Linked DNA regions of Homo sapiens. The protein of the gene in region 5 interacts with the protein of the main gene of each other region in a biochemical or structural test. Each region holds a gene or a part of one and is shown on either strand. Other genes may lie near its edges. The genes, in order: ANAPC2, ANAPC4, UBE2D1, UBE2D3, ANAPC11, CCNB1 and FOXO3.

Region 1 (4,243 bases), on a different chromosome or scaffold from region 5:
TGCACCAGGTGACCCGGGAGAGGATGGAGGACCGTTGCCGGGGCGAGTACGAGCGCTCCTTCCTGCGTGAGTTCCACAAGGTGAGGACCCCTCCCTTGGGCTGTGCCCCGCTGGAGACAGGGGAGTAGGTTTCTGGCAAACCTGACACCTGGCTTCAGAAGCATCCAGAGCACGGAGGCCTGGGTGGGCCCAGACCGGGTGGTGGCTGGAGCTGTCTTGATGTGGGGTAGAGACCAGTACTTCTGGGCCCTGGTGATAGCGAGGACGCATCTGAGGTGCGCTCTTCGGATCTGCGCAGAATCCCATGGCTGCAGGCGGTATCGGGCCAGGATCCCGAGGGGGCTACCTCAGGCAGGTGTGGCGAAGCTGGGCCCACCAGAGGAGCCACTGAATGGATCCCCTTCTCCTGTTTGCTGCCCTACTTGAGTGTGGACTCGCTTGGCCGGTCCCTAATGGACTGACCTACAGCCAGCCTGCACCACAGCGGGGAGCGAGACACCCTCACATGGGGCCTCCAGGCACCTGTGCTGTTGGGGTGTGGTCTGGGGCTCTGCTCTGGGCTCCCGGAGCCATAGGGGAGCTGGGCCCAGCCATGTGGGTCCCCCCATCCTGTTCCCATGTGTCACCTGTCCTTTCCTCAGTGTTTCAGAGTCCCCCTACTGAGGTGCAGATTGGCTGTGATGTTGGGTTTTCAAAGAGGGAGGGTGTCCCCAAAGCGGTGGGCAAGAGTGGGTAGTAGGGTGGAGAGGGTGAACATCCGTGCGGTCTTGCCACTGGGTAGCAGGTCTGTGGGGCATGAGCACGCCTGGGCCCCGCGGCGGAATTGCCACCTAGAGGTTTGTGCTCGCCTGGGCCCCCCGGCTGGTCTCAAGGGCGTGTTTATCCATTTAAGTGGGGGCAAGTGTGCCCACCAGGCACAGCGCACAGGTCGTGTGTGTCTGTCATGTCTCACGCTAGGGTTGCTGCTGCCAGTGATAAGTGTGGGCACTGGCGCGTGTGAGAGGCACGAAGACTGCAGGGGGGCCGGGACGTCGCCTTTTGGGCCATCACCCACCCTGCAGGTTTTGATGTGCTCCAGCCTCCAGACGCAGGTGGCCTTCGGGCTCCCCTCGGTCCCGGCCGACAGGGTGGGTGGCCGTGAGGCTCCTCCCAGCCTCTGAGTCAGCCCGGGGCTCACCATGCCTCCCTGCAGCTCACACTAGCGTTCTCCTGACAGTGGATCGAGCGGGTGGTCGGCTGGCTCGGCAAGGTGTTCCTGCAGGACGGCCCCGCCAGGCCCGCATCTCCCGAGGCCGGCAACACCCTGCGCCGCTGGCGCTGCCACGTGCAAAGGTTCTTCTACCGCATCTACGCCAGCCTGCGCATCGAGGAGCTCTTCAGCATCGTCCGAGGTGGTCCTGCCCCGGCCCTGGGGTCCGCTCTCCCGTCTGGGGAGTCTTCCCAGGGCCTTCCCCGTGTCTCCTCTGTGTCTGCATCTGGGCTCCCTGTGCCTTCACCGTGTCTGCTCTGTGTCTGCGTCTGGGGCTCCCAGGGCCTTTGCCGTGTCTGCTCTGTGTCTGCGTCTGGGCTCCCTGTGTCTGCGTCTTGGGCTCCCTGTGCCTTCGCCGTGTCTGCTCTGTGTCTGCGTCTGGGCTCCCTGTGTCTGCGTCTGGGCTCCCTGTGCCTTCACCGTGTCTGCTCTGTCTGCGTCTGGGGCTCCCAGGGCCTTCGCCGTGTCTGCTCTGTCTGCGTCTGGGCTCCCTGTGTCTGCGTCTGGGGCTCCCAGGGCCTTCGCTGTGTCTGCTCTGTGTCTGCATCTGGGCTCCCTGTGCCTTCGCCGTGTCTGCTCTGTGTCTGCGTCTTGGGCTCCCTGTGCCTTCACCGTGTCTGCTCTGTGTCTGCGTCTGGGCTCCCTGTGTCTGCGTCTGGGCTCCCCGTGCCTTCACCGTGTCTGCTCTTTGTCTGCATCTGGGGCTCCCAGGGCCTTCGTCGTGTCTGCTCTGTGTCTGTGTCTGGGCTCCTTGTGTCTGCGTCTGGGCTCCCTGTGCCTTCGCCGTGTCTGCTCTGTGTCTGCATCTGGGGCTCCCAGGGCCTTCGCCATGTCGGCTCTGTGTCTGCATCTGGGCTCCCTGTGTCCACGTCTGGGGCTCCCTGTGCCTTCGCTGTCGCTCTTGCAGGGGGGTGCACCGGGCAGTGCTGGGACTGTCCCCACTGCGGCGTCCCCCGTGCCTGGATCAGGGCAGGTGTGGCAGATGCTGGACAGTGCTTCTGGGTGTCCACTGCTGTGCTGCCTTGGCCTTGGCTCCTGCTGGGGACTGGCCCCTGGGTGTTGCTCTGTCCACCCTGTGGCATTGTGGTCAAATGCATCAGCACGCCAGAGTGTCGGGGGGATGTCTGGTGCCTAGCAGGTGGTCTCATCATCGTCCTGGGGCTGGCAAGCACGTGTCCTTTCCCACACCGCACACACTCTGCACCAGCCTGCACGTGCGCACGCATCCATGTCTGTCCCTGAGGGATGTTCTTCTTCTTGTAGACTTCCCAGACTCCCGGCCAGCCATCGAGGACCTCAAGTACTGCCTGGAGAGGACGGACCAGAGGCAGCAGCTGCTCGTGTCCCTCAAGGCTGCCCTGGAGACTCGGCTCCTGCATCCAGGTGCTGTGTGCTGCCCGGCCACCCAGCACTCTGGGCTTAGACACTCACCAGGGGACCCATGTCCAGGGAGCCTGGGGCCTAGTCTGCCAGCCCTGGACTTGTAGGTCTAAGGAAGAAATGGGTTGAGAAGCAATTGGTGAGGTCCTTAGGGGATCTGAGGTGCCCGTCAGCTTGCTTGTTTCTTCTTTGGAGGGAGTCAGGACTGACCGGTAGGTCTGAGGTGATGAGACTTAGTTCTCTCAGAACAGACCTCCCTGCAGGGCGGGACCTGTGAACAGGTAGAGGTGGGGATGGGGGGACAAGGGAACGAGGCTGCAGTGGGGACCTGTAGACCACCTACCGGCATGGCCAGCTGTCTACTCGGGTGTTGCCCCTGGGAGGCTGTGGTCCCGGGCACTGCATGACTGCTGGCTTCTGCCCTGGCTGTAGGCGTCAACACGTGTGACATCATCACCCTCTATATCTCTGCCATCAAGGCGCTGCGCGTGCTGGACCCTTCCATGGTCATCCTGGAGGTGGCCTGTGAGCCTATCCGCCGCTACCTGAGGTGAGGGCTGCAGCTGGCCCAGGAGCCACTGGGACCCTGGGCATCCTGCTGAGCTCCTCGTGGTCCTGGGGGGCAGCCGGAGGGTGTGTTCGGCCGTCAGGACACAAGGTCTCCCCCGGCTGGGCTGAGTGCACGGGATCAGGCCCGAGGCTCTTTCCTTTCCTCTTGCCCGTGCCGGGCACCTGTCCTTGTCACACGGTGTCACCGTGCCCTCTGTGTGCAGCTGCCAGAGGCCCACCACAGCCCTTCCTCAGCCTCCCCATCTCCAGCACAGAGAGAAGCTCTTCCACTTGGCCTCGCCTTGGTGCTGACCAGTCCCCAAGGCCGACCAGGCAAGGGGAGTGGGCTCTGCTGTCCTGGCCTTTCCCACGGCAAGGAACAGACACTCCTGGGGCTGTTCGGTGGAGAATGTGTTGGGATGAGGACCTTGACATGGCTGCCTGGGAATTCCTCAGGGGTCGCAGAGGCCCTGGCCCGGGGCTGGCAGGCACAGTGGCCCCCAGGAGCCGAGCAGCAGGAGCCGGTGGAGTCTGGCCCCTACCTGGACTCCTTTGGTGCTTTGTGGCTGTAACTGGCCTGGCTTCTGAGCCAGTTCTTTGTTTTTTCTTTTTTTTTTGAGATGGAGTCTCACTCTTTCGCCCAGGCTGGAGTGCAGTGGCACGATCTCTGCTCACTGCAAGCTCCGCCTCCCGGGTTCACGCCATTCTCCTGCCTCAGCCTCCCGAGTAACTGAGACTACAGGCCGCCACCAAGCCTGGCTAACTTTTTGTATTTTTAATAGAGATGGGGTTTCACCATGTTAGCCAGGATAGTCTTGATCTCCTGACCTCGTGATCCGCCTGCCTCGGCCTCCTGAAGTGCTGGGATTACAGGCGTGAGCCACCGTGCCCGGCCCTTTTTTCTTTTTCTTTTTCTTTTTTTTGAGGCAGGCTCTCGCTCTGTTGGAGTGCAGTGGCAGAATCCTGTCTCCCTGCAGCCTCGGACACCTGGGCTTAGGTCTTCTGGCTTAGTGTCCCTATGTGCTGGGATTGCAGGTGCGCAGGCCGGCCTTGCGCTCGCAGCTC
Region 2 (4,243 bases), on a different chromosome or scaffold from region 5:
GCTAAATACTTGATCTGTGTACTTTCTTTAGGGTACATGGGTCAGTATTGTGTGGTGGGTAAAAGTTGGTGCTCTGAAAGCTGGATTTTCTGGGTTGGAAGCTGCTCTACTACTTCGTAGTAACACGGCTGAGAGCAAGTTGCCTAACCTCTCTGTGCCATAGTTTCTCATCTGTAAAATGAAGATGGTAATAATGCTGCCCTCAAAAAACTGGTGTGGAGATTAAATAAATTAATCTACATAAGCACTTAGACTAATGCCTGGCACTTAGCACAGAAGCAGTCTGTAGGTTAGTGTCTGAGCACTTTTTACTCAGTGTTTCTGACAACAAAATGAGAGAAATTTTTTTCCTCCTGACACCAACCAATTTTGACACCAACGGGGTGTCCTACAATTCAATTCTGACACGAATTACAGATAGTTAGCGCAGACCTCACAGGATAAGGATGCAGTCCCACAAGACTGCCCTCGCGTCAAATGTCAGGTCTCTGGGTCCCCACATCTCTTGGGTAGCCATGCTTGTTGTCTGACTTGGCTATAAGGTTAAGGTCAAGAGTTCCCAGAACCTTCCTCCCTTTCAGGTTGGATAATTTTGCTAGAATGGCTCACAAAACTCCGGGAAACATATAATTTTTGTTTACCAGTGTGTTGTAAAGAATATGACTCAGGAACAGCCACATAGAAGTGCTATATCAGGCAGGGTATGGAGAGAAAGGTGCAAAGCTTCCATGCTCTCCCAGCACCTGGACATATTCACCACCCAGAAAGTTCTCTGAACCTCATTGTCCCAGTGTATTTCTGGCGGTTTCATTATGTAGACATGATTGATGAAGTCATTGGCCATTGGTGATTGAACTCAACCTCCAAGCCCCTCTCTCTTCCTTGGAGGCTGGCGGGTGGAGCTGAAGTTTCCAAACTTCTAATCAAGGCTTGGTCTTTTTGGTGGCCAGCCCCTATCCTAAAGCTATCTAGGTGCCAGCCAAGAGTTGCCTCATTAAAACAAAAGATGGTAGTCCTAGCACTTTGGGAGGGTGAGGTGGGCGGATCACTTGAGATCAGGAGTTCGAGACCTGACCAACATAGTGAAACCCTATCTCTACTAAAAATTAGCTGGGTGTGGTGGTGTGCACCTGTAGTCCTGTTACTCGGGACACTGAGGCAGGAGAATCGCTTGAATCCGGGAGGCAGAGTTTGCAATGAGCTGAGACTGCACCACTGCACTCCAACCTGGGCAACAGAATGAGACTCTGTCTTTAAAAAAAGAAAAAAAAAAATGTTCCTGTCACCTTTATCACTCAGGAAATTCCAAGGGTTTTGGAAGCTCTGTTCTAGGAACTAGAAACAAAGATCAATGTTTTTCTGTGATAACATAGCATCTGTCACCTTGAGAACTTAAAATGTTAATGTGATTGTAGTTCATTTTATCCAGCATGGCTTTATCTAAGGGAGGGCCTACAAAGCACAGTGGAAGAGGGTGGGCATTAGAGTCAGACTTGGGTTTGATTGACAGAACTAGATACTTAGTTATTTTCACACTGGGCAATTGCCTAAACCTGTTAAGCTTCATTTTTTTTTTCATCTGTAAATTGGAGAATATGGTGTTTACTTCATATGGCTATTGTAAGCAATAAAAAAAAAGGTATTTTAAACACCTAGCATAGCAGGTGTTAGTGCTAAATTATATATTACTTTCTCCTGATAAAGTAACCTTTTAAAAAGTAAAGAGCTTATTTATATAGAGCTAGTTTCCAGTCTCTTGTTTTAGAGACTTAAAAAACAGTACTGGACTGCTGTTGTTGTTTCACTGTGGCAAAGAATAGAAGAATGAATTTTATTTCATCATATATTTGATGGTTCCCAAATCATTCCTTGCTTCTTATAGCCAGCAGAAACCTACAGTTGGATTTTGGTGAGTCTAAGTTTGTAGTAAGTGAGATTGTTTTTAGTGAGCTGTCAGCGGGGGTTGATGAAAGGCAGAAGACCATGGTCGTTTTTAATGAGGTTGTGTGAAAATCCAATGAAGTGGTCAGTGAAAATTCTACCTCGAGATAAACTGTGCAGACTGGCTCTAACAGTAGATTATTTTCTTCTAATTATAAGTTTGCTATAGCTTCTTTTATTTTTGTTTCTGTTTTTGTTTGAAACCAGAAAGTCCTTTGCTGTTTCCTTATTATCCTCGAAAATCATTGCATTTTGTGAAAAGGCGGATGGAGAATATTATTGATCAGTGTTTGCAAAAGCCAGCAGTAAGTTTGAAAGAAATGCATGTCTTTGTGTAGGAGCAATAGTGTCTACAGTATGTGGCTCACTTATGTAAATGATCTTAATTTTTAGAATGAACTATGAAAATGTTGATAGTCAACTGTTTTTGATTAACAAAAGTAACAATTTCATATGGTTCAACCTAATACTCCAACTTAAGTTTCTTACACACGTGTGTGTGTGTGTGTGTGTGTATAAAGATTACTGAAGGTGTTGGCATCTTGAGTATTTTATTTGTTCCCAGAAGAAATTCATTGTAAACAGTCTTAGTTACAGAGCTGATGTGTCTCTGCTTACTACTGAAGGATGTGAATGAATGGTTGTTATGAGACCAGAGGGAGGTGGTCTTAAACCTGCCATGTGCTTAGCACCAAGGTCCTTTTCAGCTCAGAATTTTCTCTTTTTCCTTACTGTTACAATTGTCATTAACGTTTCTTATGTACAAGGTTTGGTGATGTAGGCGATTTTTTTACCACATTCGAACAGTGATGGTCAGTCACTTTCTGTAGAGTATCTGTGTGCATATTAACGCTCTAATTATATTTTAAAATCTTATTTTATATAGGATGTAATTGGAAAATCGATGAATCAAGCAATCTGTATTCCATTGTATAGAGATACCAGAAGGTAATTCTGTTTACCTATTGGATGGTGTAATTCCGCAGCCAATTTAAATTTTTCTCATTTCTTTTTCCCTTTTATTTTAGTGAGGATTCTACACGTAGATTGTTCAAATTTCCTTTTCTGTAAGTATATATTTCTTCCCTATCTTGAGTGAACAATACAATTTTGTTTTATCCATCAATAGTTAAAAAATATTATGACAATTTTTTTTCTTAGGTGGAATAATAAAACTTCAAATCTACATTATCTTCTTTTTACTATTCTAGAAGATTCACTTTATAAAATGTGCATCTTAAGGAGACATACTGATATTTCTCAGTAAGTATTAATCTGAAGTTTGAATCAAAGAGATAAGATTTTATTATTTGTAAGAATGAAGCATACAGCCTTCCAGCATTTCAGATTTTAAACTACTTTGTGACTTTTAGATGTGTCATTTAATTGTTAGTTTTCATGTCATTAAAAGGGTAACACTGAATTAGGAAGTTATATGATCTTGTTTTAGATTATTTAATTTTTATTGGCATATAATCATTGTAGGACTTTTTTTAGAGTTAGGAAAAATATGACAGCTCAGGATATTATACTTCATTTTTTAGAAGTTAAAAACTTCCGAAAAACTAAAAGTTAAAGAAGTTTTAACTTTTTAGAAGTTAAAAACTTCTAAAAGTGGCTGCCTTATAGAAATGATTTTTGCCTAGGGTTAAGTATGCTTTTCATTAAACAAGAGGCCTTGCCTAACAGAGACTTACTTTGAAATTGAAAGTAGAAGTTCTGAAAAATAAATCATATTTAGAACGCCATTGGTAGCTTAAAAATGGTTTTAAACCTGAATTTGAAGAAAATGTTGAGACCACGATGTAACCAAAAAGAAATAATTGGGTTATTTCTATTCCAAATGTCTTTGGTGACTGTGTGATTTTAAACCAAATTGGTTTATCTATCTAGGCATTTAAACAAGTTCTCAGTGTTCTAAAGAAGTACATGTACTGACCCTGACAATCATGTTCTTTTAAGCCTTTAGATTATTGACTATCCAGGTTGTTCCACAGAGTCTCTTTTTTTCCCCCTTCTTTCTTGAAGATCTGTGAGTAATGGACTAATTGCTATTAAATTTGGGAGCTTTACATATGCCACAACAGAAAAAGTCAGAAGAAGGTAAGTCTTGAATCTTGTTTGGATGAAATGTAGATACATGTGATATGTGTATATGTTTAGGAATAGGATCAGACTCAGTTACGGTGGTAATATAGGTAAAAGGGCTTTGCCACTTCCCACATCAAGGGCAGGATTCTTTGTGTATTTATACATAGAGAATGATTTGACTTGTGATTGAATAGAACCTTACTGCCCTGCA
Region 3 (4,243 bases), on a different chromosome or scaffold from region 5:
AGATGGAGTCTTGCTATGTTTCCCAGGCTGGAGTGCAGTGGCATGATCTCGGCTCACTGCAACCTCTGCCTCCTGGGTTCAAGCAATTCTCCTGCCTCAGCCTCCTGAGTAGCTGGGACTACAGGCGCATGCTGCCATGCCCCGCTGATTTTTTGTATTTTAGTAGAGATGGGGTTTCACCGTGTTGCCTAGGCTGGTCTCGAACTCCTGAGCTCAGGCAATCCACCTACCTCGGCCTCCCAAGGTGCTAGGATTATAGGTGTGAGCCACCACACCCGGCCAATAATCTCTTAATTGGCTTGGCTATTTGAGAGTGTTAAAAAGTTCATGATTTCACATTTCTTCACTATGAAAAAGAATAAAGATGATTGGATTAAAATTATATGTAAAGACAGAGCATGGAGATATCAATGCTTAAAATATATTTTTATAGTAGAATAAACTAACTATACTAGAATATACTAAATGATTTAATGCTCTGATTTAGTGTGCCAGTTTTGCATTCCAGCTCATAAATTTACACACCCATGCCCTATTTTTAAATAACAGTGAAAGATGTTATCGCAGTCACCTAAATCATTAAAAGAAAAAAAGTTTGAACAAAGTCTAAGGAAAGATACCTAAAACATGTCTGAAAAGAGGAGGACAGTTTTTCACCTAGGTATCTATTTTCTAGAAGTAATTTCTAAGTTGTTTCTTCTATCAATACTATTTTCATTACTTGAAACACTTTTTTTGGGGAGGATTATTTTTTAAATTACAGGTGTTAATATCCCAATACCAAATGTTTTGAAAACTAAAGGGCAAAAAAAAGGAAATCCTAAAACAGTCATTGTCATCATCATAGATTTTATTTGATAAAGAATTTGAGGTAATGAACATCATACTAGCATTATGTGATGTGATGTGATGTGATGTGATAAGTTTATTTACATTTTTGTCTTTTGAAAAGTGAGGCAATAGAGTTCCGTTTTACAAACATAGCAACTCAGAGAACTATTCCTTAGTGTGTAATTCTGGCCCCCAAATGGAACATTAGTTGTTTTTGTTTTTTAATAATCAATGTAATCTGAAACATATATAGAGAGACATAGATTAAAATCAAATTTGATAAATGTTTGAGCTGCTGAATTTTTTTGATTTGTAGAATTTTATGTTAAACTGTTTATGTCAGTCTAGAAAACTTTAGGATACTTAACCCAGCCCTCTATGGACGGAGCATCAAATGGAAGAAGGAGGTCTGAGTTTTTTTTGTTTTTAGACAGGGTCTCACTTTGTCACCCAGGCTGGAATGCGGTGGCACAATCTCGGTTTTCTGTGACCTCTGCCTCTGAGGCTCAAGTGACCCTCCCACCTCAGCCTCCTGAGTAGCTGGGACTACAGGCCTGCATCACCACACCTGGCTAATTTTTGTATTTTCAGTAGAGATGGGTTTTCACCATGTTGGCCAGGCTAGTCTCGAACTCCTGACCTCAGGTGATCCACCCGCCTCAGCCTCCCAAAGTGCTGGGATTACAGGCGTGAACCACCTCACGCAGCCAAAGGTCTGGTTTTTATTCCTGGCTGTGTGGCTTACTAGCTTCGTACAATGAGGCTAGTACATATTTTCCATACATTTCCATACAATGGATATGTATGGATATCCATACATATGAGGCTGCTGATCTCAAAAACCAGGGTGTTTGTAATCGTTACTCTGCCTTCTAAGTACTTGACATATATTAATTGACTTAATTCTTAGTATACCCAAGAGGTAGAAACAGTGTTATTTCCATTTTACAGATGATGATACTAAGGCAGGGAAATATTGAGTAGTTTACTCATGATCACATTATCTAGTAAGTGACAATGCTACGATTCCAAAACAAACAGTTGGCTTCAATTCCACATTCCTTTTTTTTTTTTTCAGTCTTAGAATCTTTTATTTAATACCTTCTCATGCCCAGTTAACACAAAAATAGTTGCAGTTACATATCGCTACTGAAAGCTACCAAACTGCCTATCTGAAGAGAGAGTCAAGGATCCTTCTCTTCCACTTCTTAGGAGAGAATGATAGTTTTTGGATGTTGAAGAGAGCATTCACTGAGATTACTGAACTCACCAGATATACTATAAAGCTTTCTGTCTAATGTAGCCAGTAGCCACATGGAAACAAATTGGGTATGAAAATTTAGTTTTCAACCTTGAGCTTTATGAAATCTAAATATAGATCAAATATTGCTGACGAAAATTTAGTATCCAAATTGAGATGTGCTGAAGTGTAAAATATGTACTGGAATTTGAAGACCTAGTATACAAATCTAAATAATTGTTACTAATGAGATATTTATAAACATTTTTATATTGATTAAATTTTGAAATGATGACATTTTGGATAAGCCACCTAGTCAGGCTAAGACTCATTTTCTTTCTCTGTAAAATGAAGGAGTAAACGATATCAGAGTACTACTTGCCTTATTCTGTCTTTACATTCAGGTTCTAGAAACCAGACCATGGGCAGAGCATTTTCCTCCTTGTTCAGCAGAGCAAATTTGTGGGCTTTTAAAGATGGTAACATTGTTTCTTAAATCACTTTCCATAATTTAATATCAGTAATCTGTTTATAGAAGAGAACAGCCACATTCCCTGACAAAGTTTTGTATGACTTTACTTTTTATTTTGCTTTTAAGCTTGGCTGTAATATTATTACTGAACCTGTGACACTTCACTTAAAATGTCAAATCCTTTAGTGGAGAGAGTGTTATTTCCTTGTCTTAATCTTTTTATATGCCAATGATTGTGCCCCCTAGGATAGCAAATAAAATCTGTCAATAAACTGACTGAACAATGCTATCCAATAGAAATACAATGTGAGCTACATTTTAATTTTAAATTTCCTAGTAGCCACGTTTTTAAAACGGGAAGTAGAAGCAAGCAAAATTAAATTTAATGTGTCTTATGTAATTCCATATTCTTAACCACTTCAGTACATAGCTTCTCTTATCCACATGAACTCGTATCTATTGTACTTAAACTGGAAGACATAGAGTCAAATGGGTTTATGGGATATAAGTGCTTTGCAAACTGGAATGTTCTATACAAATGTAAAGTGGTGTTATAATTAAGACCTTGGCATATTTGATCATTTTCACTGACACATTGCTCAAATGTGTTGATTGTGCTTCGCAAATCTCTGCTCCAAAGTAACACATGCTGAGATCGTTTAACATTGTAAATCAGTAATATAACTTTGATCATCTTTGTTTCATCACTTTGAATTTCTCTCCTCCAAAAGGATTTTGAAACATTGGTTGTAGTTCATAAATGCTCTGTCAAAAGTATCATTGCATTGTGAAGTTTTTATTTGAGATAACTTTTTGAATTGACAGAGTCATTTAGTTCCTGTAGTGGTTTTGAGTAGTAAACTGTTCATATTATGAGATTAAATCCAAGACTCCAGTTCTTTCTAGAAAGAATGATACAACTTAAAGAAGCACGGTATTTATGCATTTTGGGATAAATGGTTTTCCTTGAGATGAGAGCGAGATAGTGTTCTTTCTCTAATAAGCCACGATGTAAATTTTTTTTTAAATCTTTGTAATTAAGCTCAGTCTTTCTTTTGTCCTTGATACTGTATTTTTCTTTCTTCATCGCAATAGAGGTATAAAAAAATGAGGTAACCTATGACAGTTAAAAAGTTCTGAGATTTCTTCTCTGTGGAAATAAATAGCCTAGAACTAAATAAAGCTGTTTATGCCTATTTTAAGAAGCCAGGCACATATGAAAACCAAACCTAGCAGGATGTGGGATTGCCTCCAGGAAAGCAAAATAGCGTCCTTACTCGCTTTAGTTCCCTGAAATACGCATAGAAAACATATGGGCCCTTTATTTTCATTTAATGAGTGCTACTAATAGAAATGATAAACCTAATATTTAGCCATAAAACTGAGTTAATGGTCATCTACTAATGTAATAGTCCCTGCCTTTTTAATAGTGAATAAACTGATTACATTGAATTAACAACAGGAATTGAGATACTTATCCTCTCTCCTCTCCTGTGAAATGCTGGAATAAATGATACTAGAATATATAATATGACCATATTTGCAGTTTGGGAATTGGAGGGGTAGGTCCTCAGGCCACCTTAGCACATGTGTCTGAAGGCAGGACAGGTTTTATTTCTGGCCCATCTTGGTCTTGATGGTCTCTGAGAAGCTAAGGTTTTTCTGTGCTTAATTTGGTTCTGAGATGAATCTGTGAAGGT
Region 4 (4,243 bases), on a different chromosome or scaffold from region 5:
CCTCAACCTTGTTATGTAGGGAAGGGAAAAGTTTAGGGAAGTATTTTTATACTTTGTTGAAACATCTGATTTTTATCTCCTAATGATACTTTCAACATAATCTATTGTAAAAGAGACCTTCAACTTTTCATAGCTGAATTTGTCGTATTTAAATGTTTGTCAATTGTGAATCATGATTTCTTGTACCTTTTTCAGTATGAAATACTTACATTAATCCTAACCTTGCTGTAATTTCATGGCTAATGTGTAATTGAATGTTTTCTACTACTGGGCAGCTGTTTGGCTGTTAATCTTTGTTTTTTTTGTTTGTTTGTTTGTTTTGTTTGTTTTAATGTCCATAAAACACCCTTCTTGCTTTCATGGAGCAGAGCTTCAAATCTAAATTTGGGTTTCTTTGCCCATTTTTAAATAATGCTTACAAAAGAATGGCTTTGAATAATGTTAAGTGACTTTACCTTCAGTGGTGATCGAAAGAAAATTAGTAATATTCAATCCATTCTTAGTACCTTGTGTAATGAACACGCATGCTTGTTTCACCTATAATTACGACTAAACAGGAAGTTAATACCTTGTCAGTGATGCAGTGAGATACTGTGCAGTGCCTACTGTTAAACCTTAAGATAAAAAAGGATTTCTCAGAAGAAATTTCAAATTAAAATGTGTTTTAAAGGGACTATTTGGAGTTTTGTGAAATTGTTCATATCTTTTTGCCAAGCATCCTTCTCTTGAAATAACCATGTTTCTGAAGTTTGTTGTTCCCTGCCTTGATATTCGCATCTACATATTTTATACAGACATTTCATAACATTAAAGTTAATAAAACTTTATAGTAAACCAGATCTTTATATGAACAGTTACAGTAGTTACTGTCTGCCTGATGGACAGCTAATTGCACTGCACTTCGACCTCTATTGTTGGTTCGCACCTTTGTATTTTTCTAGGTTGGTTGTAAAGTCTTCTTGAGGATGATTCTTAAAATTTCTTAAGGCACTTACTCCCTTTGTTTCCCACCTCATTTTATCATCTCTTCCAGTCCCCAAAGCAGTGTTTTGTGTTGCTCAGTATAGGTTTTTGAGGCAAGGGCTGTTTTTATAATGCTGATTCACAGTCATACAAATCTTGTCTTTTGAGTCATGTAAATCTTGTCTTTAGTTCTGAAAGAAATAGACTCTCAAATAGAATACAAGAAATTAACCTTTAGTAATGGCATAAGCTTTTAGTTTTCCGGAAAGTGCTGAGAGGAAATGTATCTATACTACTGCGTTCTGTCCTCTGTATGACCTTTGTGTGATGACGTGCAAAATAGATGGTAGAGATTGGGATAACAAATGATTTGTGGAACATCGTGGTGATAATTTTACTGTCTTAAAGGTAGAATCCATGAACTTGGCCTTGCCACTATATAGGCTTTTGAATTTTGACAAGCCTTGGGGGGATGAAACCTAGAATAAGTTATTTATGGCGTTACGCTTTAATAGGGTTGACACTTAAAACCTTGTTTTCATAAATGCTACCTTTTGGTTATGTTGATCTGATGAACAGATACTGGCTGTCATTGAAAGAAAGTTAACCGAATGTTCAGATACTTATTGGGCTCCTGGAACATGGCTGCTCTGTAGCTTCATGAATATTCATAATATTCATAAATATTTGTGAATAAATATTTTTAGTATTTCCAATTTATAAGCTCTTTGAAAGGAGGGAATTTTTTTTTTTTTTTTTGAGGCGGAGTCTTGGTCAGCTGCCCAGGCTAGAGTGCAGTGGCGCAACTGCGGCTTACTGCAACCACCGTCTCCTGGGTTCAAGCAATTCTCCTGTCTCAGCCTCTCGAGTAGCTGGGATTACAGGCACCCGCCATCATGCCCGGCTAATTTTTATATTTTAGTAGAGATGGGATTTCACGATGTTGGCCAGGCTGGTCTTGAATTCCTGACCTCAGGTGATCCGCCTGCCTTGGCTTCCCAAAGTGCTAGGATTACAAGCGTGAGCCACCACGCCCAGCAAGGGAGGGGACATTCTTATGTTTCTCCTAGCATCCTTTCAGGTCTTTAATGTTTTCAATACCTTGGCCTACTGTTCTTTGTAGCCTGTGGTTGGTCACCACTGCTAGTACCACTTATCATTGAATGAGGAAGATAGAGAATAGAGAAGCAGAAAGCATAGTTTAACATCTCCAACAATCAACTGTTAAATCCCATATCCCATAGTGACTACAGTAAAGGTCTTCCTCAAGATAAACCATTTGCAGGCTTTGTATTAAAAATCTCATGTAAGGAATGTTTCAGAATAAAAAAAAAAATAGTGACCAAACCCATTACTGCTTAAATCATGTACTTCCAGATGAGAACACTCACCAGTGGCTTAAGCTGTACCTGTTGGTTGCCTTTTAGAGAGATTTTTTTGGTGAAAAAAATCCTGCCCTATTTTCTACCATGGTGCCCACCAGGTCTTCAGGAAATAGGCAAACAACTCAGTTGTGTAAAGTCTGTTGCTGTCTCAAATTTCTTTGTAGTGTTTTAACTAATGAGGCGAACTAGACCATGTGAGAGCTTTGAGAGGGTCTCATTTACCTAGCTTAGAAAGAAGGCAGAGGGGTCTCCTTGACTTCTTTTCCTATAGGTTTTTTAAGGCTTTTAAATACAAGTATTTTTTCCAGTGAGAAGGTCTGGATTCTCACACTAGCCAAGTGTGCAGAAAGTTTGAGGAGAAGCAGCTCAGAGGAAGATGACACTAAAAGGAGAAAGTTTCCTAAAAGAGCACTCTGTGGAAAAGAAATGTCCAACCTTTTGTTCTTTTTATAGCTAGTACAGTTTCTTAGTGTTGTACCCTGATTGTATGTGCTTGATCTTAGTGTCCCTTCAACGTGAGTGGAACCTTGAGCAATTCCTAAAGTAAGTCAGTGTCCCCAACCAAACATTTTCCTGTTTCAGTGGCCTTAATAGTTGAGTAATGCTGTTCCCCTTAGGTGAGGGGTAGTCAGCACAGTATAAAAAAATTTTACAGGTGCCGTGTGAGAGCTGTTCCTTCTGGTTCTTGGCACTGTTCCTCTTCCTCTAGACTGCTAGGAAGGAATAAGCTGAAAATTTCAATTGTGTAATTTTTTAGTGTTTTTGTCCCTGAAGCCTGTGAAACTTTAGGCTCTAAAAACATTTTGTTAGGTGACTATCGTAGACAAAATTACTTTTAAAAATGCTGAGTATGGGTGTCGTTGGAAATTGATTTCCAGTCCAGTAAATAGTCTTGCTGTGGGATAGAATCATTTTCTCAGGCCATGTAACTTGAAAAATAGTACTGGATTCACACTACGTACGAATAATGAGATACAGACTAACGGTGGATGGTTATGCGGAAATAAATACTAAGGAAAACATTAGTTTTCCATATCGTGTTCATTCTGGAGCATTGAGTAATAGTTTGGTGCAGTTGAGAATTTTTTTCCCTCAGTTTGCCAAACATTAAATTATCTTTGCAAGGACACCCTGTTGAGAAAGGAACCTTTTTGAAACTTACCCCTAGTCCAAATTTTTAAGTTGTTAGTAGGTACACTTAGTTCACCTATCCTAAAGCTGAACATGTTCTATGCTTGAATGTAATCATTTCTTTCCCCTCTCTTAAGGGACTCAACTGTAAAACAGAGAAGATGAGCTCTATTTCCGTAAAGTGGTTATAAGAGTACAGTTAAACACTTGTGGTGTACGACTGCTAGTATATTTAAAAATCAAAACTCATTTGTCTTCTATTTCGAAACCATCAGTGATTTCCCATTGCCTTTGGAATAGTCTGACTAAATTCAAGGGCTCTTTTAAAAGATCAAGTCATAACCTGCCTTTTTAGCTAAATCTGCCACTCTCCTGGTGTACTCTGTCTGGTATACCAAACTCTGCAGTATTTGTTCTGGCAAATTTTTATGCCCTGTGTTCTTTGACACTCCTGACTTTGAGTTTCTCTACCTAGAATGCTTCTCTCACTCCTTGTTCTTGGTAAATGCCTGCTTATTTTTCCATCAAGAGCCAGCTCAAATGGCACTCCTCTAAACCCAGGAAAAGTTAGTGGTTGGTTTTTCAGGATTCTCAGAGCATTTGAGTCCCTTTATTTTAAGCATGTAGGTTGTTAAAGTATAATTTTTGTTTTGTCTTGCACCTGCTTTCTGTTAGCTGAGTCTGAGGAGGCATTTCTATCTTAATTATCTTGGTGTTTTTATACCTAACATGCATGGCACCAAAAAGGCAATGTTCCTATGAAT
Region 5 (3,760 bases):
GTCTCGATCTCTTGACCTCGTGATCCGCCCACCTCAGCCTCCCAAAGTGCTGGGATTACAGGCATGAGCCACTGCGCCCAGCCCTTGTTGTATTTTTAGCAGAGACAGGGTTTCACCATGTTGGCCGGGCTGGTCTTAAAACTCCTGACCTCAGGTGATCCGTCCACCTCGGCCTCCCAAAGTACCAGGATTACAGGTGTGAGCCACTGCACCCGCCCCTGTCTTTGCTTCTTAAGGTGAAATTGAGATGACTGAATCTTAGTACAATTTTTTTTTTTTGAGACAGGGTCTTGCTGTCACCCAGGCGGCAGTGCAGTGTGGCAAAATCATAGCTCACTGTAGCCTTCAATTCCTCAGCTCAAGTGATCCTCCCACCTCCACCTCTCAAGTAGCTGGGACCACAGGCATGCTCCACAATGCCTGGCTAATTTTTTATTTTTTTATTTTTTGTAGAGACAGGGTTTTGCTATGTTGCCAAGGCTAGTCTTGAACTCCTGGGCTCAAGGGATCTGCCTGCCTTGGCATACCAAAGTGCTGGGATTACAGACGTGAGCCACCATGCCTGAACAAAACTACATAAATTTTTAATTTTTTTTGTGGAAATGGAGTCTCACTATGTTTCCCAGGCTGGTCTCAAACTCTTGGCTCTGTCCTGCCACAGCCTCCCAAAGTGCTGGGATTATAGGTGTGGCGCCTGGCCCGTACAAATACTTTTTATTCTAGGCTTAACTTTTACATTGGCCCTAGCTAAATAGAAATCTCATCACTCAGGAATTAATCCTCATTTAATCAAACGGGTAGGGTGTAATCTTAGGAAATTATTGATTGACTCTACCTGATTGGATTTGTAGTTAATAGCTAATTAGGTTAATAACTAAATTCACAAGGCACAGTTTTATTTGATCTCTTTTAAATTGCTCTTAAGGATGTAACAAAGAGTGCGTGGGATGCCCTGAGGGCAGGCATTCGACTTCTGGAGCAGCAGCTTAACTTCTGAAATTCCTCCGAACCATGTGTCCACACCTCGTCTGGCTGCATCCGTGGGCCAGATGTGGGTGGTGAATCCTGTGGATTAGAGGTGGTGCTAGGTAGCCCCCAAGTGACTGCAGTGGTGGGTCCACAGGCAGCCTGCAGAGCCCGCCCTGCAGCATGCCAGCTGGGCCTGTGATGGGGCATCCAGAGGGTGTTGCCCTGAACACTCAGCATGTCTCCGCTGACACAGTGTGCTCAGGCTTTGTTAACATGGGGCCTGTTGGCTGCAGAGACTCAGGAGTTGAGAGTCTAATTTTTGGACCTGCTGATGGTTAAGTCATAGTGAGTCAGTGTTAACGCGCAAAGCGTTTGACGAGTCCAATGTGCTTCCATACTAAGCAGCACCAGGTTTCTTTTGCTAAAATTGAACTCCTGTGAAAAATTCAGAGTGACTAAGTTCATTCAACAAAGACCGTGGGAGCCCGAGGCTGGTAAACAATGAGTCCATCCCGCATCCCAGGGGACTCTGGTGGCAGTGCAGTTTTGCCGAGAGGAGTTTTAATTTAAAAAAATGCAATCAGGAGACCAGCAGGTCCTGGAATGAGTCACCCTCAGTGCATCTGCGGACTCATCAGACACCCCAGGCCGGCTTCGGGTGGGGAATGCACTAGAACGAAGTGACACCTTTGACTAAACGAGGCCTCCCCCGAGTACTCAGAGTGGCCCAGACCCCTCTCCTCAGGGGGCTAGCAGGCTTCAGCTCTCATTTGAAAGGGCCGATATCAAGCAGAGTTGTGCTGAGGCCAGAAACCCCCACGGGCAGGTCCTCCCAGGGCTGGGAGTGGGCATGCCGTGGGGCCGGCGCTGCCAGGACAGGAGGGTGGCCACGAGCTCCAGCTCCACAATGCCAGGCCGACCCTGCCGTGGGGCTGGGGCTGGGACTTGCTGTGCTCTGTTGGCAGCAGCTGTTCCTCAGGGGTTTCCAGGCTCTTGGAGATCAGGGACACTCATTTCTCTTGATCATGGCTGATACAAGCATCCCTCTCTGTGTCAGGTCCTCTCCATGGAGAAAGCATTTCTAGGTGTTTGGGCTGGTGCCCGCAGCCTGTGCCTGTCCTGGGAGGCAGGGCCCATCCACAGGTGCCCATCAACACAGCTTCCCCAACGCCTGGGCAGCACACCGGATCCCTGATGTCTAGGGAAGAGTCTTCTAGGTCCCCAGACCCCACCCCTCCTGCCCTTGATCAAGAGACCAGTTCACTACTCAGATGCACGTCTCCTTGGTGCCTTGACCATTCATGTGACCTTTTTGGCATCACAGATCAAGTGTCTGCAGATGGGCCCAGGGCCTGTAGGTCAGACATTGCCCTTTTTCCCCAGCCTCAAGCACAGGGGACACAGGGTGGGCTAGGCCAGAGCGCCACCTCCTCAGAGAGGCCCCTGGGCTCCCCACTGAGCATGATGAGCCTGGGTGAGGGGAGGCGCCTGCTGCGGTTGCCCCGGGTGGAGGCCGCATGTCCGGTGTCCCTTGGTCATTGCTGGTCTTCGCCTGGGGGCGGGCTGGTCAGGAGACCGATTGGGTAACACTCCTGATTTCGGCTTCTCTGAAACATGAGAGGCTGCAGTGCTGGAGCCACTGCCCAGGGTCCCTACCTGCACCCCTGCCTGGCTTGTCACATGCTCTGTGTCCAGCCTGGTCATGCCTGTCCTTTTCCCCACCTCCCCTCCGTAGGCAAGGTGCCCGGCGACGACTGCCCGCTGGTGTGGGGCCAGTGCTCCCACTGCTTCCACATGCATTGCATCCTCAAGTGGCTGCACGCACAGCAGGTGCAGCAGCACTGCCCCATGTGCCGCCAGGAATGGAAGTTCAAGGAGTGAGGCCCGACCTGGCTCTCGCTGGAGGGGCATCCTGAGACTCCTTCCTCATGCTGGCGCCGATGGCTGCTGGGGACAGCGCCCCTGAGCTGCAACAAGGTGGAAACAAGGGCTGGAGCTGCGTTTGTTTTGCCATCACTATGTTGACACTTTTATCCAATAAGTGAAAACTCATTAAACTACTCAAATCTTGCTGGAGGCCTCTGGGTGCCTGTGTTCTCGGCATATAGATGTGGTCTCGGTGTGTTTTGATATGAAAACTCTCATGAATAAACATCTCCGTGAAACGCCAAGGCCCTCGTCAAACCCTGAGTCATGACTGGGAGGAGAAGGAGCAGGATCAGACGGTAGAGCCTGGGGCATGCTCTTCAGGCATGCTCTTGCCTGCTGGATTGCCGGCGGCGGCCCTGGGACCCTCCCTCAGGCTGGCTCTGAGGGACCCTGGCTGTGCAAAGCTGGCGGCCACTGCTTGTGGCGCCTCCAGACTGAAGGCCACCATCTCTGAGTGGGCGTCCATTGTTCTCACTGGGACTGTCTGCAGCGGGGCTGGGCCTCCCACAGTGTAGGGATCAGTGTCCTGACACTGGGAAGTGTGTCCACACGTCTGAGGCTTCCCTTCCTAGGGAAAGGTGGCCCTGGGAGGCTCCTTTGTGTGCCTCTGCTCCCCACAATCGTGGTGGGAAGGGGCCGCTGGGGGAGTGGCAGCCCCGGCATCTCAGGCTGCTTCTGGACAGAGCACAGGCTGTGTCTCCAGTAACCTAGGGAGCCCTTGGCATTCATGGGGCCAGTGACCCGTGCCCAGTGTCTCTTGACCCTTCCTCACAGCAACCTGAGGAGTAGACCAGGCCTCACCTGAAATCTGTGTCAGGGTTCTCTAGAGAGACAGGACTCTATATGAAGAGTATATATGAAG
Region 6 (4,243 bases), on a different chromosome or scaffold from region 5:
ATAATGTAGTATCTTTATTTGGAAGGGAGTGGACCAGCAGCAGTTGTGGTGAAGAATATCGTAAGACCTGACAATATAAAAAAGCTGTCATACTGTCCTATCTAATGTTTGCCTTTTTTTTCTTTTTTTTTTGGGGTGGGGAGACAGTCTCACTCTGTCACCCAGGCTGGAGTGCAGTGGTGCAATCTCGGCTCCCTGCAACCTCCACCTGCCAGGTTCAAGCAATTCTCCTGCCTCAGCCTCCCAAGTAGCTGGAACTACAGGTGTGCGCAACCATGCCCAGCTAATTTTTGTATTTTTAGTAAAGACAGGTTTTGCCATGTTGGCCAGGCTGGTCTCGAACTCCTGGCTGCAAGCAATCTGCCAACTTCAGCCTCCCAAAGTGCTGGGATTACAGGCGTGAGCCACCACGCCAGCCTTCATGTTTGCTTTATTTCTTGGTGATGGTGTTGTTTGTGGTTGACCATATGAATAATTGAATTAAGAACTGATATAGATTATAAATGCCCCAGTGCTACTGTAGGAACTAACTGATCTTTCTGGACATAAATGTGTCACATGGAGTCATGTTTCTAAGAATAATCAGCATTTTCTTTTGCAGGAAGAGCAAGCAGTCAGACCAAAATACCTACTGGGTCGGGAAGTCACTGGAAACATGAGAGCCATCCTAATTGACTGGCTAGTACAGGTTCAAATGAAATTCAGGTTGTTGCAGGAGACCATGTACATGACTGTCTCCATTATTGATCGGTTCATGCAGGTGAGCATTTCAGTAAGAGTTTTCCCTTCCAGGATTCTAGCCGAGTCATAAGAAACTGATGTTTTCAGGCCAGTCTGGGCGCAGTGGCTCATGCCTGTAATCCCAGCGGGCGGGTGGATCACAAGGTTAGGAGATCGAGACCATCCTGGCCAACGCAGTAAAACCCTGTCTCTACTAAAAATACAAAAAATTAGCCGGGCATGGTGGCGGGCGCCTGTAGTCCCAGCTACTGGAGGCGGAGGTTGCAGTGAGCTGAGATCACGCCATTGCACTCCAGCCTGGGTGACAGAGCGAGACTCAAAAAAAAAAGAAAGAAATAAACTGACTTTTTCAACTAAAATCTTTCTTGGGGGATATGGTGTCATTAAGATTTTGCTATGGGAGAATGTCTTTCTACCTCTCCTTCATCATAGCTCTGTGTCTCCTTTTCAAACATTTTATTCACCCTATTGAAATTCCCATTGCAGAATAATTGTGTGCCCAAGAAGATGCTGCAGCTGGTTGGTGTCACTGCCATGTTTATTGCAAGCAAATATGAAGAAATGTACCCTCCAGAAATTGGTGACTTTGCTTTTGTGACTGACAACACTTATACTAAGCACCAAATCAGACAGATGGAAATGAAGATTCTAAGAGCTTTAAACTTTGGTCTGGGTCGGCCTCTACCTTTGCACTTCCTTCGGAGAGCATCTAAGATTGGAGAGGTACAGGTTTCTTGAGAAACCTCTCCGTATGGGTACATTAGGGGGAACACTGCTGCTGACCAAGCACGTTGAATTCAACTGACCTGTATTATACCTAACTACATGGGGAAGGGATAAAGTTGTTCTTTATTTCTAGTCAGGCTGCATGTTAATATTAGGACTTTCCATGGGCATTTGAGAGTTTGTAGACAAACATTTGTAGTTAAAGATACATATGGGCATGCAGGTTAGTGCCAAAGGAAAATTTTCTGAAAGAAACTCAGTAACATGGGTTTTGTTTCAGGTTGATGTCGAGCAACATACTTTGGCCAAATACCTGATGGAACTAACTATGTTGGACTATGACATGGTGCACTTTCCTCCTTCTCAAATTGCAGCAGGAGCTTTTTGCTTAGCACTGAAAATTCTGGATAATGGTGAATGGGTAAGCTGTGTCCCACAGAACTCCTAAGCTTTTAAATTTTAAAGAGTGACTAAATACAGAACTTTTGTTATTAAAAGGCAATTCAAGTGGTTCATAAATATGGGATCTACTGAAGGAATAGTTAAAAAAGATGTCTTAGAATGTTTCCACATCTTTTTGTTTTTGAGACAAGGTCTCGCTCTGTCACTCAGGCTGGAGTGCAGTGGTGCAGTCTTGGCCCACTGCAACATCAGCCTCCAGAGTAGCTGGGATTACAGGTGTCTGTCTAGTTTTTAAATTTTTTTCATGTCAGATGGGTAATATGCCCACATTGTAACAAGGTTTGAGGGTGGCACGTTTCACATGTTCACATGAACACCAAATCATCACACTTATGAACTACAAAAGAGTCGCCCACCAGCCTGGGCAACATAGCAAATCCTCATCTTTACAAAAAATATATAAAATATATATATATATATATATATATATATATATACAGGCACACGCCTGTAGTCCCAGCTACTCTGGAGGCTGAGCTTTGTATTTTTTGTAGACATGGGGTCTCTCTATATTACCCAGGCTGGTCTTGAAACTCTGGGCTCAAGCGATCCACCCACCTCCACTTACCAAAGTGTTGGAATTACAGGCGTGAGCCATTGCAACCAGTCGAGTGTTTCCATTTCTTTCCCTGATTTCAACTTTATTCCCTTTGAGAAAGGTAGAGCAACTTTTACTCCTTACAGATGGAGAAACTTGAAGGTCAAATGACATACTAGTAGTTCATTCATATTCATTGATTCAACAAATGCTTCTCCTATGTGACAGGCACTACCCTAGGTCTTTTTTTGTTTTTTCGAGACGGAGTCTCTCTCTGTCGCCCAGGCTGGAGAGCAGTGGCGTGATCTCGGCTCACTGCAACCTCCGCCTCCTGGGTTCATGCCATTCTCCTGCCTCAGCCTCCCGAGTAGCTGGGACTACAGGTGCCTGCCACCACGCCCGGCTAATTTTATATATATATATATATTTTTTTTTAGTAGAGATGGGGTTTCACCGTGTTAGCCAGGATGGTCTTGATCTCCTGACCTCGTGATCCGCCCACCTTGGCCTCCCAAAGTGCTGGGATTACAGGCGTGAGCCATTGTGCCCGGCCTACCCTAGGTCTTAAGAATAGAACTATGTAGCTGGGTGCAGTGGCTTACATCTGTAATCCCAGCACTTTGGGAGGCAGAGTTGGGCAGATCACGAGCTCAAAAGTTCAAGACCAGCCTGACCAACATGGTGAAACCCTATCTCTACTAAAAATACAAAAATTAGCCAGGTGTGGCAGTGCGCGCCTGTAATCCCAGCTACTCAGGAGGCTGAGGCAGGAGAATCACTTGAACCTGGGGGCGGAGGTTGCAGTGAGCCGAGATCATACCATGCACTCCAGCCTGGAGCGAGACTCCATCTCAAAAAAAAAAAAAATTACAAAGTTGGCCTCAAGGAAGTGGAGTCTAGTTTTAGGGTGGGCAAGTCAGCAATTACAAAAGTGCAATTAGGTTTGAGCAGAGGAAGCATGAGAGCACCTAGGAAAGGAGTCTTTAGCTTTGTCTTAAATTTCAGTTATATTAATTATACAGTACCCATCTCTTTTCCACTCCTGAATAACATCTAACATCTAGAAACTTTATGAAAATCATTATTGATTTGAGCATTTTTAACATTAACTTGTTGCCTTAGACACCAACTCTACAACATTACCTGTCATATACTGAAGAATCTCTTCTTCCAGTTATGCAGCACCTGGCTAAGAATGTAGTCATGGTAAATCAAGGACTTACAAAGCACATGGTGAGTCAATATAGTGGCATTGTAAGATGCTGAAAAGTGTAATAATTCAAACTTAATGCCTGCAAATGCCTGGTTTATTTTTAATGAGTTAATGTTTTAAATGAATACCTGTATCATTGCATCTTGTGATTTTTTTTCTTTTGCCTCTTTAATTGCTATCTTTTTGTCTTCCAGACTGTCAAGAACAAGTATGCCACATCGAAGCATGCTAAGATCAGCACTCTACCACAGCTGAATTCTGCACTAGTTCAAGATTTAGCCAAGGCTGTGGCAAAGGTGTAACTTGTAAACTTGAGTTGGAGTACTATATTTACAAATAAAATTGGCACCATGTGCCATCTGTACATATTACTGTTGCATTTACTTTTAATAAAGCTTGTGGCCCCTTTTACTTTTTTATAGCTTAACTAATTTGAATGTGGTTACTTCCTACTGTAGGGTAGCGGAAAAGTTGTCTTAAAAGGTATGGTGGGGATATTTTTAAAAACTCCTTTTGGTTTACCTGGGGATCCAATTGATGTATATGTTTATATACTGGGTTCT
Region 7 (4,243 bases), on a different chromosome or scaffold from region 5:
TTCTTTTAACAAATGCTTACATTATGAGTCTTATATTTGGTTTAATTCAATTGCTTTGTAAAAGAATGCCAGGTGTATGATACGAGAGTTCTTTACAGAAAGGATGAAAGTTAGACAATTCCATTTGAAAAGAGCACTAGTGTGATATGTTTTAAAACTGGGTTTCCAAGTGGATGGGAAGGGTTAATCAGTGTATAGTATCAGGAAGGCGTAAGCGGACAGGATCTGAGAACATGGATTTGGGGGTTCGAAATGTTTTTCAGATTTCTCTCACTTGAAATTTAGTCTTGCATGTTTGAATTTGGTGAGGAGAATACGTTAGTGAAAAGTTAGTTAACTTTAAACTTAGTTAAAACGTTAACGTAGGAAGGCGTTTTCACCTTTCCTGTGATTTTTAAGGTTACAAAAATAATTTAATTTCACAAATATTTCTTGTTATTTTGTTTATAGTTAAATATAATAAGTTTAATGAACTTTATTTTTGGGGGGAAGATTTACATGAGATAATGGTATTACCAAAAGTAGCCGCGAATTGAGATTGGGCTAGATACATTTTCATATAGTTTGTAGGACTTGCAATACAGATTTTGGGACTAGTCATAAACTTTATGGTTTTATGTCATCGTTTTTTTGTCTTATGGTTTTTTTTTTTTACCCTTCTCTGCTATCTCATTTCTCTTCAACTAAAATCTTAGAAAATACTGTAAATTGAAATTCTCAAGGCTTAATATGCTTAATACAGGGCACACATTTTATGATTCTTTTACCTTAAAATTTTTTACCAATTCCATTTCTGAGTGTCACATGACAACTAATCCTTGACGACTAAAGGGATATAATTTTGTTAGAGTTTTTATAAGATGATCTTCATCAAAAGATGCAGCCATGCAGGAACTTTCAAATCTTTGATGATGGAGAAGGCCCTTTGAAACTGGAGCTGGTTTTATATTTTGATTATGACTAATAGGCAACCTTTTTTTGTGTGTGCTTGTGGTTTAGTGGAAGAAGAGGGAAAAGGGAGAGATCAGGAGCTAATTGTGACCCATTTCCAAGTGTCCAAGTTTAGGAGTTGATTCTTGTCATGATTAGTCATTTTGGAAGCACGCATGTGCATTTAAACCACACTACTTTCATTCTGAGTAATGTAAGAGGATTTTTAACTTCCAAAAATGTCTAGAATTCAGGTTAACGTCTCCTAGTCATGTGTGCATAAAGGGCACGGTATGCAGGGCCTTACTTCTTTTCAGGCTATTTGGGCCATTGCATTATGAGACCTTGTAACCAAAATTATCACCCTAACATCATAAAATGAAAGAATTAGAAAAGAGGACTTAGAGATCAGAATCTAAATCAGTGGTTCTCAGCCCTGGTTGCATGTTTGAATTACCTGGGAACTTCTGAAAAATACAAATACCCAGAGAATTTGATATAATTTGGCTTGTGTGTGGCTTAGCATTGATGGTTTTGTGTTTTGTTTTTTTTTTTCAAGTTTCTTAGGTGATTCTAATGTATAGTTAGGATGAAGTTTTCTGATCTAGTTCAACCCTCTTATTTTACTGGTGAAAAACCTGATTTTTGGAAAAGCTAATGACTTTCTTAAGATCACACAGCTAGTTAGTAGAGAGGTAATTAGTAGCCACAGTTCTAGAGGTTTTTGTTTTCCATTTTCTTCTTTAAATTGATCTTTTTTAAAAGGTCATTTGCTAGGTAATGGATAGTCTCACATAAGTAGCGCTTGCTTTCCTGAAAGGCTTATTTGCCTCTCAATCTAAAAACATCTTGCTTATTATTTCAGCATCAAAAGGATGGGCAAATGTAGATGGAGGCTGAGTGAGTGTATCATGTTTGCATAGCTGTCCAGTGCCTGTCAGTAGGGGTACTTAGGAACTATGAAGTGATAAAAGAGGTAAGAAGGATAGCATTTTAACAAAAAGAGGAAGCCCTTGGTTACTTACATTTGTCAGATACTGTGTCAGGGAGAAGGATGATGACTATCTCACAGGTTCCCTTACCTCGGGCATTAAAGTAGAAATGAACAATCAGATGTGGTTAAGAGGGGAAAAGGTTACATTTCCTTTAATTCAGATTAAGCTTGCACTGCACCCATGATTGAACAAGTGAGTTCTCTCAGTTCCTCTTGTCTTGGGGAGACCTCTAAGGACGCCAGGGCTTACCTGGTAAGGCCTATCTATCACTTATTTCGTTATACACAGCACACATCTGCTTTTCCCATGGGTCAGGGTGTAATCAAATTAGGCAGACTTGAGTTTCTGTAGTGGTTCCCATAATTTCACAAGTGTGGGGGATACTGTGTTAAGATTTCTGCTGCTGCTGCTGCTGCAGAAGATAATTCTTCAAGAGTCCGAGTCTTCTTTCATGTAAGAATGTGTATTGTTATGGCTTCTTGCCAAGATAAAAAGATGAGGGCTGTCCTGTCACATAATGCTTATTTGTGTCCTCACTGTTTCTGTTCTTTAGATTAATACATCCAGTTCCTTTTCAACACACTGTATTAGGAAAATGTTATTTTAACTGCAACTCTGTTTTAAATTTTTTTTTAATTTGAAAATGACTAAGTCATAATCATTCCACATTGGCTCATAATTTTGACCTCAGTCACCTTTTGGAGTAACTCACCAAAAGGCCAGTTATGGTCGTGTGTGAAGAATCTGTCTGCTTGGCCCGTGTTGCCAAAATGTCGTTTTGTAATTTCCTTTGGCAATAGTGTCTTCGTCAGTGATTCTCAACTAATATACTTCCTCTTTCTACAGCCCCAGTACACTAGAGGGACTGTTTTTCCTCTTTTTCAAAGCTGTGTCATTGACCTCTGAAGTGAAGAAATTGGCCCTTTTAGACTTTGATCTGTGAGTCCCATGTAACAGAGACTCTTTAAAAAAGAAGCTAAGTGTGTGTTTTGATATGTTTATCTCCTTCTTAGAAAATGAAATGAAACTACAGCAGACTTATTTTTAGGAGATTTTAGGAGTGTTCTATTTTAAGAAAATGACACCATACAAGAACATCTTTTAGTTAAACTTCTTAGTACTCTGCTTGTGATTCTTACTTAAAACCTGCAAGATACTTTTATTTGGAAAATTAATGAAGAGGCCTTGTCTCACTAATAAGTCATTTAATTTGGTCTGGCAAAAGTTTACCATCCATTCAAAGATCTTCATGAAAATGCAAAGATAAGGCTGTTTAGGCTTGAGCCCAGGAGTTCAAGACCAGCTTGGGCACATAGCAAAACCCCATCTTATTTTTTTTTTAAAGACTGTTTAGGCCTGTGCATTCTGGCAGGTTGCCCCACTTACCCAGAGCAGGTGCATCAGATTCCAGATTCCCAGGGCTGGAGAGAATATGGAATTTATTTTGTTTGTATACCCACTTATTTTGCCTATAGGGACAGACTTGACCCTATTCTCAACTCCTCATTTCTCTCCTTTTCCTGCATCACAAATTGAGGGGTCCTGAAGAGCCACTTTACCTTTTTGGTGCTATAAAAGGAGCTGGGGATCATAAATGCAAAGACGAGTTGATATCAGTGGATGTTACAGCTGGTATACAGTAAGTGAATGAAAGATTGGAAAGAGAAAACCCTTTTTACCCATTTGCATCACATCCCATTTCATGTATTCAACAAATGTTTATCAAAGGCATGCTGCTTGCAGAGCATTTGCCAGGACTTAGGGATATAGTGGTAGCAGAAGGCAGATAAAGTTCCAGTTCACTCACAGGAGTTCATATTCTGATGGAGGAGACAGAAAATAAGCTATAGCATATCTGTGCTTTGTGAATTTGTCATTGCTGCCTATTCCCGTTGCCTTTTTTTTACATCTGTATTTCTGCTTTCTCTAGTACTTCAACTCTGCTAAGAAGTTGCTGGGAAGTGGCAAATTTGATGTGGGGCATGGCTTGGAGCTAGCCTTTAACTCTCTGCAGATCATTTTGAGCTTGCTTTGGAGATGCAAAACCACCGTACCATGGCTCCTGTGGATTGGGTCTGTTTGGGAGAAGCTTTGGTTTTCCAAGCTCCACCTGGATTAGATAGAGCACATCTTTGGCCCTGGACTGATCTGGGATCCCCAGTTCTGTCTCCCAGGGCCTGATGTAGATCTGGCCTTCCTCTGGAGTGGATGTGGAGCCTTGATGCCACTGACTCATCTGTATTACTTGTTGCCTAAAACTCAGAACTAAAAGAGATCTTAAAGATCATCTAACTACCTTATTTTGCAGGTGAGAAACA

What was found.
Region 1: the proteins of ANAPC11 (region 5) and ANAPC2 form a complex in vitro, tested with the Homo sapiens proteins (one study listed by BioGRID).
Region 2: the proteins of ANAPC11 (region 5) and ANAPC4 form a complex in vitro, tested with the Homo sapiens proteins (one study listed by BioGRID).
Region 3: the proteins of ANAPC11 (region 5) and UBE2D1 form a complex in vitro, tested with the Homo sapiens proteins (6 studies listed by BioGRID).
Region 4: the proteins of ANAPC11 (region 5) and UBE2D3 form a complex in vitro, tested with the Homo sapiens proteins (2 studies listed by BioGRID).
Region 6: the proteins of ANAPC11 (region 5) and CCNB1 form a complex in vitro, tested with the Homo sapiens proteins (one study listed by BioGRID).
Region 7: the proteins of ANAPC11 (region 5) and FOXO3 form a complex in vitro, tested with the Homo sapiens proteins (one study listed by BioGRID).

The regions. Positions count from the first base shown.
Region 1 is NC_000009.12:137,182,061-137,186,303, reverse strand, and holds part of ANAPC2 (anaphase-promoting complex subunit 2), read left to right. Parts: coding exon 1-80; intron 81-1,216; coding exon 1,217-1,391; intron 1,392-2,512; coding exon 2,513-2,632; intron 2,633-3,061; coding exon 3,062-3,179; intron 3,180-4,243. UniProt on the Homo sapiens protein: Together with the RING-H2 protein ANAPC11, constitutes the catalytic component of the anaphase promoting complex/cyclosome (APC/C), a cell cycle-regulated E3 ubiquitin ligase that controls progression through mitosis and the G1 phase of the cell cycle.
Region 2 is NC_000004.12:25,411,497-25,415,739, forward strand, and holds part of ANAPC4 (anaphase-promoting complex subunit 4), read left to right. Parts: intron 1-2,148; coding exon 2,149-2,246; intron 2,247-2,827; coding exon 2,828-2,889; intron 2,890-2,969; coding exon 2,970-3,008; intron 3,009-3,102; coding exon 3,103-3,204; intron 3,205-3,903; coding exon of another isoform or gene 3,904-3,910; exon of another isoform or gene 3,911-3,969; coding exon 3,970-4,044; intron 4,045-4,243. UniProt on the Homo sapiens protein: Component of the anaphase promoting complex/cyclosome (APC/C), a cell cycle-regulated E3 ubiquitin ligase that controls progression through mitosis and the G1 phase of the cell cycle.
Region 3 is NC_000010.11:58,337,866-58,342,108, forward strand, and holds part of UBE2D1 (ubiquitin-conjugating enzyme E2 D1), read left to right. Parts: intron 1-4,243.
Region 4 is NC_000004.12:102,816,809-102,821,051, reverse strand, and holds part of UBE2D3 (ubiquitin-conjugating enzyme E2 D3), read left to right. Parts: intron 1-4,243. UniProt on the Homo sapiens protein: Accepts ubiquitin from the E1 complex and catalyzes its covalent attachment to other proteins. In vitro catalyzes 'Lys-11'-, as well as 'Lys-48'-linked polyubiquitination.
Region 5 is NC_000017.11:81,897,216-81,900,975, forward strand, and holds the end of ANAPC11 (anaphase-promoting complex subunit 11), read left to right. Parts: intron 1-2,026; coding exon of another isoform or gene 2,027-2,327; intron 2,328-2,704; coding exon 2,705-2,850; coding exon of another isoform or gene 2,851-2,935; 3' UTR 2,936-3,040; downstream 3,041-3,760. UniProt on the Homo sapiens protein: Together with the cullin protein ANAPC2, constitutes the catalytic component of the anaphase promoting complex/cyclosome (APC/C), a cell cycle-regulated E3 ubiquitin ligase that controls progression through mitosis and the G1 phase of the cell cycle.
Region 6 is NC_000005.10:69,173,650-69,177,892, forward strand, and holds part of CCNB1 (G2/mitotic-specific cyclin-B1), read left to right. Parts: intron 1-601; coding exon 602-760; intron 761-1,227; coding exon 1,228-1,464; intron 1,465-1,747; coding exon 1,748-1,888; intron 1,889-2,174; exon of another isoform or gene 2,175-2,278; intron 2,279-3,589; coding exon 3,590-3,700; intron 3,701-3,874; coding exon 3,875-3,982; 3' UTR 3,983-4,243. UniProt on the Homo sapiens protein: Essential for the control of the cell cycle at the G2/M (mitosis) transition.
Region 7 is NC_000006.12:108,563,317-108,567,559, forward strand, and holds part of FOXO3 (forkhead box protein O3), read left to right. Parts: intron 1-3,855; exon of another isoform or gene 3,856-4,233; intron 4,234-4,243. UniProt on the Homo sapiens protein: Transcriptional activator that recognizes and binds to the DNA sequence 5'-[AG]TAAA[TC]A-3' and regulates different processes, such as apoptosis and autophagy.